2 linked regions of the Homo sapiens genome follow. The protein of the gene in region 2 interacts with the protein of the main gene of each other region in a biochemical or structural test. Each region holds a gene or a part of one and is shown on either strand. Other genes may lie near its edges.

Region 1 (5,265 bases), on a different chromosome or scaffold from region 2:
AGAAGCAGACATGAGAGGAATTGAACTAGACACTTCCCACAGAGGCTGCACAAACACTGGCCAATCTCTCCTACCCTTCACTTGCCTTTAGTTTCACTTTTCATTGATCTGCCACTGAGGACTGCTTGGTTATTAGGCCTAAGTAGATTCATGTATATAATCTGCAGGACTCTCTTTCAAATTTATATTCCAGTGGTGGTATATGATGCTGATAGATTTTCTTAAATTCAAAAAGGCAAATAAGACCACGTTAAAAGAATACCCTGGAAAGGCCAGGCGCGGTGGCTCACGCCTGTAATCCCAGCACTTTGGGAGGCCGAGGCAGGCAGATCACAAGGTCAGGAGATCGAGACCATCCTGGCTAACACGGTGAAACCCCATCTCTACTAAAAATACAAAAACAAAATTAGCCAGGCGTGGTGATGGGTGCCTGTAGTCCCAGCTACTCGGGTGGCTGAGGCAGGAGAATGGCTGAACCTGGGAAGCGGAGCTTGCAGTGAGCCGAGATAGCACCACTGCACTCCAGCCTGGGTGACAGAGCCAGACTCCATCTCAAAAAAAAAAAAAAAAAAAAAAAAAAGAATACCCTGGAAAAGTTAGCCAAAAAATGTCTATTCAGGCGTCAGATATGATAGTAAGATAATTAGTTTGCGATGCGGACTTTATATGCAGGATATTTGGGTGTTTATGGAGGAAAAGTGAAGTCGATTTTACCTTCAAGAGGCCAACAGCCAGCTGGAGAGGAAGTGCCTGCTCCCAGTAGCGTCTGCTGGTGAGACCGACTTCCACTTGACTAGCTGAGCCCATTGACATAATGTGATGGTTCTATTCTCCCTTCAGGCCTGGAACCGGGAACCGAATATACAATTTATGTCATTGCCCTGAAGAATAATCAGAAGAGCGAGCCCCTGATTGGAAGGAAAAAGACAGGTAAGAGTATCTTGCAGGTAACAAGGAGAAAGATAGGACAAAACTAATAACAAATGAGCAATCTTGCAATATGAAAAGGTTCTCCATGTTTTGATGCATTTCTTGTGATTTTTTTTATCTAACAGCATAGTGTATATATTGTATTCTTTAATAGGAGAAATAATTTAACATGCACTGCAGAGTTTGGTTTTATTTTTTTTCTTTACTACAGCCACTCAATATAAAGCCTTGTTATTCACCTTTTAAAAATTCAAACAAGATGTTAAAATGTAAAAGAAGAGCTATCATTGCTCTTCTTTTATACCTTCTGTTGAATTTTAAAATGTTTCCTTTTTTAAAGGAGGGAGAGAAACCTCTCACATTTATCTTTATTTGGTTTCTACAACTTAGAGCTAAATAATGTCTTACTTTTGCATCCAGTTTCAGTTAATTTCAAGAAAATGTGTATTCCTGATATAGGAAAATTTCAAAAATGAACATGTGTGTTTTATCTATTTTTACCATTTCAAACCATGAAAAACTGTTGAGCCAAACCTCTGTAATTCTCATACTTATGACACTGATATGATTAGTCTGGATTCTACTTCCTACAACTTGCTTCTCAAATTTAAAAAAGAAAGAGAGAAAGAGAAAGACTGCACATTTCAGTTCCATTAGGTCTAATTTGAGCAGAGGCAGCTTCTACGGGGCTCAGCGGTTTAAAGCTGTGTGTATGATAAATTCATACTAACACTTTTTTCTTTCTAAACTATAAAGAAACCTTTGAGAAAAATCCTAAAGATTTCTTTCTGGAAAAAGTGTTTTGTGATCTCAGAACTGCTCATTTTCTGGTGGCTTTTATCAAATTGATGAACAGTCATTGTTGCCTGAATCGATTATTATCATTGCTGCTACTTCCTGGAGCTTAATGCGCTTTGCTTTTTTGGCTCTAACCTCTCTCGGCTAGACGAGCTTCCCCAACTGGTAACCCTTCCACACCCCAATCTTCATGGACCAGAGATCTTGGATGTTCCTTCCACAGTTCAAAAGACCCCTTTCGTCACCCACCCTGGGTATGACACTGGAAATGGTATTCAGCTTCCTGGCACTTCTGGTCAGCAACCCAGTGTTGGGCAACAAATGATCTTTGAGGAACATGGTTTTAGGCGGACCACACCGCCCACAACGGCCACCCCCATAAGGCATAGGCCAAGACCATACCCGCCGAATGTAGGTGAGGAAATCCAAATTGGTCACATCCCCAGGGAAGATGTAGACTATCACCTGTACCCACACGGTCCGGGACTCAATCCAAATGCCTCTACAGGACAAGAAGCTCTCTCTCAGACAACCATCTCATGGGCCCCATTCCAGGACACTTCTGAGTACATCATTTCATGTCATCCTGTTGGCACTGATGAAGAACCCTTACAGGTAATTAATTGTTCTCTTCACTTCTCATGGGGCAGCACAGAAAGGAATAAGTTAGGTAACTGAAGTGACCAGCCCTCGAATAAAAAGTGGCTTCATGGCCGGGTGTGATGGCTCACGCCTGTAATCCCAGCACTTTGGGAGGCCGAGGCAGGTGGATCATTTGAGGTTAGGAGTTCAAGACCAGCCTGGCCAACATGGTGAAACCTCGTCTCTTGAAAAAAAAAAAAAAAAAAAAGTGGCTCCACTTTTAGAACCTCTTAGAAGATGGCACATTTAAGCCCTGCTTTTTTTTTTTTTTAAATCCCAATATGGCTCTACTTTGGAGGACATACCAGAGAGTCACTAGCTTTTATTTCATAGAGAAAATGAAACTATTTCTCTTATTCTCACACATTTGAGGTTCCTTTTTGAGTAAGATAGATGATTCTAGAAAAGAAAGATATTCTACCTGAATTTCCATTTGTGTGCAGAAGTCTAAAACACTACCTTTACGATTTGTCCTTGAAGAACCCCACTATCTACAACATATCTAAAGAAAAAAAAAAACAGGCGAAGCTGTGCATAGCAGCTGATAAGTGATTGATTCTCTAAAACGTATATTATTTAATTTGTGTTGACAGTATCCATTTTTTTTTTTCCCCGAGATGGAGTCTTGCTCTATGGCCCTGGCTGGAGTGCAGTGGCGTGATCTCGGCTCACTGCAACCTCTGCCTCCCAGGTTCAAGCAATTCTCCTGCCTCAGCCTCCCAAATAGCTGGGATTACAGGCATGTGCCACCGCACCCAGCTAATTTTTGTATTTTTAGTAGAGACGGGGTTTCACGATGTTGGCCAGGATGGTCTCGATCTCCTGACCTCGTGATCCGCCCGCCTTGGCCTCCCAAAGTGCTGGGACTACAAGCATGAGCCACCCACTACACCCGGCCCACTGACAGTATCAATTTTTATTGTGTTGTTACTTTTAGAAAGTGGCAGAATTTAAAAACTGACAACACTGTAGGAAATTTATGAGCTTAGAAACATGAGTTTGAGGATTTGCCCAACTGTTTTAAGGACTCCACACTGGGGTCAGATGTCACCTGGAGGAGCATGACCGTGTCTCCCATATAGCGCAGTGTCCAGGTTTTATGTGAAGCAAACATGGCCAGGGCTTCCAGAGGGCTTATGCAGACCTGCGACTGAAGCAAGATCAATGGCAGGCCGTCTCTAGTATTGTCGAGGGCTCCTGTTAACTACGGAGCACGTAGGTAGATTGTTGGCAGGAAAATCTGGCAGGAACGATGGCCCCTATCCTTGTTCCATTTCTCTCCTCAGCTGGTTAGGACCACTATACCCTCCCTCTTTTTTTTTTTTTTGTTTTTTGTTTTTTGTCTTCCTTTGCTTTGTTTAAACAGTGAGGGTTATTGGTAAGAGGAGAGCCCGTGTCATTCCTCACTATAATGCTTTCTCTCTGCTTTGGATGTACCGATAATTGCAGTTCAGGGTTCCTGGAACTTCTACCAGTGCCACTCTGACAGGCCTCACCAGAGGTGCCACCTACAACGTCATAGTGGAGGCACTGAAAGACCAGCAGAGGCATAAGGTTCGGGAAGAGGTTGTTACCGTGGGCAACTCTGGTATGTAAACACGTACTATTTAGACACAGGCTCCCCTCTGCTGTACACCAGAGATGGGCTTTTCTGTTGACTGTACCTTTGTTGCCATTGTCTTTTTATCTTTGGGATTTAATGCAACACATCAACATGAAATAAATGAGCAACTTTATATTAAATTAATCTCTCCCCCACCTCCTGCCATATCCTGTTGTCTTCACAAAATGCATACGTAATTGACAGACTCTCAAATGGTGATATGATTATAGATCTGGAAGGGATTTCAAATATTATTTAGTACAACACTCTGAGTCCTTACTTCTGAGTATCTGAGTTGATATAGGGCACAGGTTTCCTGATGTCTTTTCCCAGACCCTCTCCATCTCACCATGCTGCTGTCCTCTTGAGTGATTAAATACTGAAACGATTACCTATAAAGAAAATACCCCTTCTGCAGACATGGGGACAGTTGGCTTTTGCTCCTGATATAAAATGCTACCAACATTGTGCATTTCTGTCTGCAGAGAATGTTATTCCAATGTTATTTCCATTTTTTTCCAATGTTATTTCCATTTTTTTTTCTGACTATACAGGTTAAAAGCTTCTATAGAGGTTAAAAGATCATTAACTCTTCTTTGTAGCACCTGGGAAATCCTTTTAAATCAATAGCGTGCCACCTGGCTGCTCAATTTGCAGCAGCTGAAAATTCACCAAGGCACATGAGATAGGGGATAATCAAAACCGTGAATCCCCAATCTTCCAACAGGAGAGTTCTCTACTCCACACCAACAGAGAGTGCTAAGTCCTGTCTATGCCAAGTGACAGATTTTATTCCTAAGGCCAGTTGTTTAATTTTAGCCCCTTCCCTCATCTGATAGAAGACTGTGCTACTTTACATGTATAAATTCCTGTGAATTAAGCAGTTGAGCATTTGGCTGGAGAGAGGTTGGGAGGAGATTATTTTGTGTTTGTTGTATTACATATCCACAGTAATGCTTATCTTTGCCTTTTGTGGTTTTACTAGTAGAATGCCACGTGAACAGAATTTTCAAGAGCAAAAAGGTCTTTGTGCTTTTCTAAGTCATTTTTTTTTTTTTTTTTTAAAGATTCCATCTCTTTAACTTTAGTTAGGATGGAATTTGAACTCCTGGCTCTTTTGAGTATAGAAACCCCTAGTAACAATTTAAGTTCCTTCCATTTTTCTTTTAAACTCCTTATTCCCAGCAGCAGTATTCTACATTCTAACCAGGTTCTCCCAGCTTTGAGACGTCTCAGACTTACCAGTTCTCCAAAACGCTATTTTCTTTAAGGGTGACACCTTTTAAAAATTA
Region 2 (5,707 bases):
GGGAGGGGGAGGTCACAGTGAGCTAAGATCGTGCCATTGCACTCCAGCTTGGGTGACAAGAGCGAAACAATGTCTCAAAAAAAAAAAAAAAAAAAAAGAAATTGCATTTCAAAGCCAGGTGCAGTGGCTCACACTTATAGTCACAGCTACTTAGGAGGCTGCGGTGGGAGAATAGCTTGAGCCCAGTTGTTCAAGGCTGAGTGAGCTGTGATTGTGGCACTGCACTCTAGTCTGGGTGACAGAGTGAGACCCTGCCTGTAAAAAAAAAAAAATCTTTCAGGCCAGACGCGGTGACTCACTCCTATAATCCCAGCACTTTGGAACGCCGAGGCGGGTGGATCACCTGAGGTGGGGAGTTCGAGACCAGCCTGGCCAACATGGACAAACCCTGTCTCTACTAAAAATACAAAAATAGCCGGGCATGGTGGCACATGCCTGTAATCCCAGCTACTCGGGAGGCTGAGGCAGGAGAATTGCTTGAACTCGGGAGGTGGAGGTTGCAGTGAGCTGAGATTGTACCACTGCAATATGAGACTCCATCTCAAAGAAAAAAAAGAAAAAAAAAAAAAGATAGCATAGCAATGGCTGTGGGCCTGGATACAAGTCTTAGCCTCTCCACTTCTCCACTTCCTGGCTCTGTAAGCCTTAGACAAGTTCCTTAACTCCACACTTCCATTTCCATGTAACAAGGGGTTATAGGCCAGGCATTGGTGGCTCATGCCTGTAATCCCAGTGCTTTGGGAGGCCAAGGCGGGAGGATACTTGGGGACAAGAGTTCAAGACCAGCCCAGGCAGCACAGTAAGACATTGGCTCTAGAAAAATAAAAATAAAAGAAATCATCCAAGAATGGTGACTTGCCTACTATTCTACTCGAGAGGCTGAGAGGGGAGGATTTCTTGAGCCCAGGAGTTTGAGGATGCAGTGAGCTATGATCACATCACTGTACTTCAGCCTGAGCAACAGCAAGATCCTGTCTCAAAAAATTAAATTAGGCTGGGCTTGGTGGCTCATGCCTGTAATCCCAGCACTTTGGAAGGCCATGGTGGGCAGATTGCTTGAGCCCAGGAGTTTGAGACGAGGCTGGGCAACATGACGAAACCCCGGCTCTACCAAAAAATACAAAAAATTAACTGGGCATAATGGTACATGTCTGTGGTCCCAGCTACTCGGTAGGCTGAGGTGGGAGGAATGCTTGAGCCCAGGAAATAGGGGCTACAGTGAACCAGGATCATGCCAGTGCACTCCAACCTGGGCAACAGAGCAAGACTCTACCTCAAAATAATTATTTAAAAAAATGGATTAATTGGGCATAGGTGGCTTGTGCCTGTAGTCCCAGTTACTCAGGAGGCTGAGGTGGGAGGATTGCCTGAGTCTAGGAGGTTGAGGCTGCAGTGAGCCGGGATGGCACCATTGCACTCCACCTGGGCAACAGGGTGAGACCCTGTCTCAAAAAAGAAAAAAAAGGGAGGGGTTATAATCACTCCTCCTGACATGATACAGAGTATCCATTTGAGTTCATAACATAAATATGTACTTGGTGAATGCTCTGTAACTATTGGCTTTTTTATTGTTCCCATTTTACATATAAGGAAGCTGAGGCTTTGTGAGGAGAAATAGCTTAGCCCAGGTCATCCAGTGGGAAGCGTCTGGTGCAGAGGAATAGTGATCATGGTGGGACTTTGCCTAGCCTAAGGTTCAGCATACAATATTCAGTCAGTACTCAAGGGCTGGGCTGTTTCTGGTAATCAAAGGGCTGCCTTGTTCTCCTGCCCCACAGCACAGGAAATTCCAAGGTGGTTTTCTTTACAGGCTCCTCCGCTTCTGTGGCCAGAGGGGACAGCGGAGGAGCCCAGGTACCTAAGCCAACTCAAGAGAAGATGGAATTGAATATTTCAACCACCTTATCTAGGCCTCTGTGATTGTTGAGGAGGGGGCTGTCACTGGGAAAGTTGTGAGCTGCTTTGGACCTTATCTGGGAATTTCCTTGGGCTTACAGCCTTTACCCTATCCTTGAAATGGTTCTGGTTTCATAGCAACTTCTAGGTGGTGTGGGCGAAGTTTGGGACTGGTTTAGGGCGGGGACAAGACCAAGAACACAAGTTTCCTTGTACTACGGGAGAGAGGGAGGGGAGGAAATTGGAGACCCCAGCACCCCCTTGCTCACTCTCTTGCTCACAGTCCACGATGGCCCGGTCCCTGGTGTGCCTTGGTGTCATCATCTTGCTGTCTGCCTTCTCCGGACCTGGTGTCAGGGGTGGTCCTATGCCCAAGCTGGCTGACCGGAAGCTGTGTGCGGACCAGGAGTGCAGCCGTAAGAATGGGGAGGGGAGAATTGGGGGCTTGGGCGTTAGCCTGTGTGGAGGGTGCTGCATTCCCTTCTATTCCTTCCCTAGACCCTATCTCCATGGCTGTGGCCCTTCAGGACTACATGGCCCCCGACTGCCGATTCCTGACCATTCACCGGGGCCAAGTGGTGTATGTCTTCTCCAAGCTGAAGGGCCGTGGGCGGCTCTTCTGGGGAGGCAGCGTGAGTCTTGGGAGAGTGAAAGAGGGAAGGGTACAGAGCTGGGGTAGACTCATTATCCCCATGAAGGGAAGATTTGAGGGGGGTGAACTGAAATAGACATTGTGGGGGGATATTGTTACTTACTTTATTTTATTTGCTTATTATTTTTTAATTTTTTCCGAGACAGAGTCTTGCTCTGTCACCCAGGCTGGAGTGCAATGGCACGATCTCGGCTCACTGTAACCTCCACCTCTTGGGTTTAAGCGATTCTCCTGCCTCAGCCTCCCAAGTACCTGGGATTACAGGCATGCACCACCACACCTGGCTAATTTTTGTATTTTTAGTAGAGACAGGGTTTTACCATATTGGCCAGGCTGGTCTTGAACTCCTGACCTCATGATCTGCCCGCCTTGGCCTCCCGGAGTGCTGGGATTACAGGTGTGAGCCACTGCCCCCCAGCCTATTTTCACTTTATTTACCAATTTTAGGACCTGATATGGTCCCACGTTCTGTTCTAGACACCAAGATACAACAACAAATGATCCTTTTTATTCTAATGGAGGGAAATGAACAAAAAGCAAGGCATAAAAAATAGCAGCAGCCGGGCACAGTAGCTCACACCTGTAATCCCAAGTAAGGCCAAGTTGGGAGGATAGCTTGAGCCCAGGAGTTCGAGACCAGCCTGGGCAACATAGCAAGACCCCCATCTCTATAAAAAAAAATTTAAAATTAACTGGGCTTCATGGCATGTGTCTGTGGTCCCGGCTACTCGGGAGGCTGAGGTGGGAGGATTGCTTGATCCCAGAAGTTGAGGCTGCAGTGAGCCGTGATCATGCTACTGCACCTCAACCTGGGCGACACAATGAGACCCTGTTTCCAAAATAATAATAATAATAAAAGCAAATATGCGCTGCTGTGAGAATTAACAGAGACTTACTTGGGTGTTCAGAAAGGGCCTCTGAACAGGTGGCATTTAAGCTGAGATTCATATGACAAGGATGGAGCAGTTATGTGGAGATCAGGGAGAAGGGAGAATGCAAAGGCCTTCAGCAGGCACAAGCTTGCCATCTTCCCAGACCCTAGCTTTTAACTCCTCTTCCCCAGGTTCAGGGAGATTACTATGGAGATCTGGCTGCTCGCCTGGGCTATTTCCCCAGTAGCATTGTCCGAGAGGACCAGACCCTGAAACCTGGCAAAGTCGATGTGAAGACAGACGTGAGTGTCATGGGGGCTGGCAAGAAATGTGGGGGGAGGACCCTTAGGTTGTGGGGATGGGCAAAAATGCTCCCACACTTGGCTCCCTGGCAGCCTAGGTATGTGCGCTGGGAGAAATTCTTTCCCTGCCTCAATTTTCTCACCAGTAAAATGGGTCCAGTTGGGAGGTGCAAAGATTAGAGGGCTCTAGGCTAATTTGCATAGCACTTGTGTGGCCAGACCTGGGCCCTGCAGCTGCAGCCTTTGCTAAAACCACTAGATCCTTTGTGGTGTGACCGCTGGTTTTCTTTCCACTGTTTCCCCTTTCTCTTTTTCAGAAATGGGATTTCTACTGCCAGTGAGCTCAGCCTACCGCTGGCCCTGCCGTTTCCCCTCCTTGGCTTTATGCAAATACAATCAGCCCAGTGCAAACGGCTCGTCTCCGTGGTCTTTGGGGTGGGGTAGGGTAGGGTGGGGACTGTACAAATGAAATGTTTCTCTAGGTTGCTGAATCTAACCAATTAACCCGCTGCCTGTGGTAACGTCAGTGGTTGCTAGGCAGAGTTTCACTGATGAAAGCCCTGTGCAGTAGGAGCGCTCCTAAGCTTAGGTTTCGGACACAAGCAAAGGAAAACCTAAGCAGCCCAACTAGGGGATTGTAGTGTCCTCTCTAGACCAGTGGGAGGGAGCCAATCGGACTACGCGGAGGATATAAATCGCACAGTAAAGGTTTTCTTGGAAGATTATCTGGAAAGGGAGGTGGGAAGTAACCTGCGCCTATCTGCCCAGTTTTCCTCCTTTTCGCCTTTGAGAACAGTAATCGCTCCCGCCAGCTCAAGATCAGCTCCTCTTCCAGCCTCTTTCTGTCAATCCTGCCCGTGCCCCCTTCTTTGCATTTGTATCCCCTCCCCCAAGTCCGCTCCGATCCAATCCGGAGACTCGACTCTGCCCCCCGTACTCCAGACTAAATCCGTTCCTCGGCTCAGCTAAGCAGCTCTGCACGTCCCTTCCCACTTGCTCAGCCAATCGCTGGGCTCGGCCCCGCCCCTTTGGGCTTGGTCCTTCTCACGCCACCAATCCGCGCCTCTTGTCCCGCCCCCTGCCCGCGAGTCCGCCAATCCCGCCCTTCGGAAAGCGTCGCCTGGTATCCAGCTGCCGGAGCGGGTCGCGCCGGAGGGGGGCGGAGGCGGAAGTGGCGGTGCCGGGCCCGGGGAGTAGGAAGGAGCCGGGGCTGTAGCCGGAGTGGAGCGGCTGCCAGCCGAGGAGCAGGCGCGGCCGCGGCGCCATATTGCGGCCCTCAGCGGCCGCGACCGAGTCATGGCTGAGACCTACGGTGAGGGTGGTGGACGAAGCTGGGGTCCTGGGTCTGGGCCCAGGGAGGATGCGGCCTGTGGGAATGGGCGGGGCTTTGTAGATCAGGGGGCGGGGTCTGGTGTGATGGAGGCAGGACCTAAGTGGATGCTGGGAGGGGTTTAGTGGGTCTGAGGCTGAGCTTAATCGATTTAGGTGGAGCCTGAGGGTCTGGTGCGTGGGTTAAATAGATCTGGGGCGGGATTTGAGGGAGCTGGTCCTGAGGGGTTCAGGGAGGCCCTGAGGGAAGAGGTGGGCCTTAATGGATCTGGGCGGAGCCTGAGTGAAGGGGCGGGGCTGACTGCATGAATGGCAGGAGTCGGGCTTATGGGCTAGAGGGAACACTGAATGGAAGCTCGGGACCCTGGGGCTGATCTGGCTGGAGAGAGCTCTGGAATGGGTTTGGGGATGGGCTGTCCTTGAGTTAGGGGCAGGACTTAGTGGCAAAGGGTGGGACTTATGCATGAGAATGGAGCCGGGTTCTGGGCAGAGGGAGGGAAGGAGAGGTCGGGAAGTGGAAAATCAGTAGGGATGCACCATAGGAGGTGGTGATTGGAGGCAGGGGAAGTGCAGGTTTAGGAGTCAGAGGGAGCCGCATTCACTCAACAAATATAGAAGAGAAGGGAGAAGAGTGCAAAGACCCTGAGGTGAGAACC

The links. Proteins that work in one complex are often made in the same cells at the same time.
Region 1: the proteins of MIA (region 2) and FN1 form a complex in vitro, tested with the Homo sapiens proteins (one study listed by BioGRID).

The regions. Positions count from the first base shown.
Region 1 is NC_000002.12:215,368,987-215,374,251, reverse strand, and holds part of FN1 (fibronectin isoform 1 precursor), read left to right. Parts: intron 1-840; coding exon 841-930; intron 931-1,876; coding exon 1,877-2,343; intron 2,344-3,819; coding exon 3,820-3,958; intron 3,959-5,265. UniProt on the Homo sapiens protein: Fibronectins bind cell surfaces and various compounds including collagen, fibrin, heparin, DNA, and actin. Fibronectins are involved in cell adhesion, cell motility, opsonization, wound healing, and maintenance of cell shape.
Region 2 is NC_000019.10:40,773,358-40,779,064, forward strand, and holds MIA (melanoma-derived growth regulatory protein precursor), read left to right. Parts: upstream 1-2,163; 5' UTR 2,164-2,185; coding exon 2,186-2,312; intron 2,313-2,394; coding exon 2,395-2,528; intron 2,529-3,611; coding exon 3,612-3,722; intron 3,723-4,039; coding exon 4,040-4,063; 3' UTR 4,064-4,133; downstream 4,134-5,707. Other genes in the region: RAB4B (ras-related protein Rab-4B), read left to right, coding at 5,019-5,034. UniProt on the Homo sapiens protein: Elicits growth inhibition on melanoma cells in vitro as well as some other neuroectodermal tumors, including gliomas.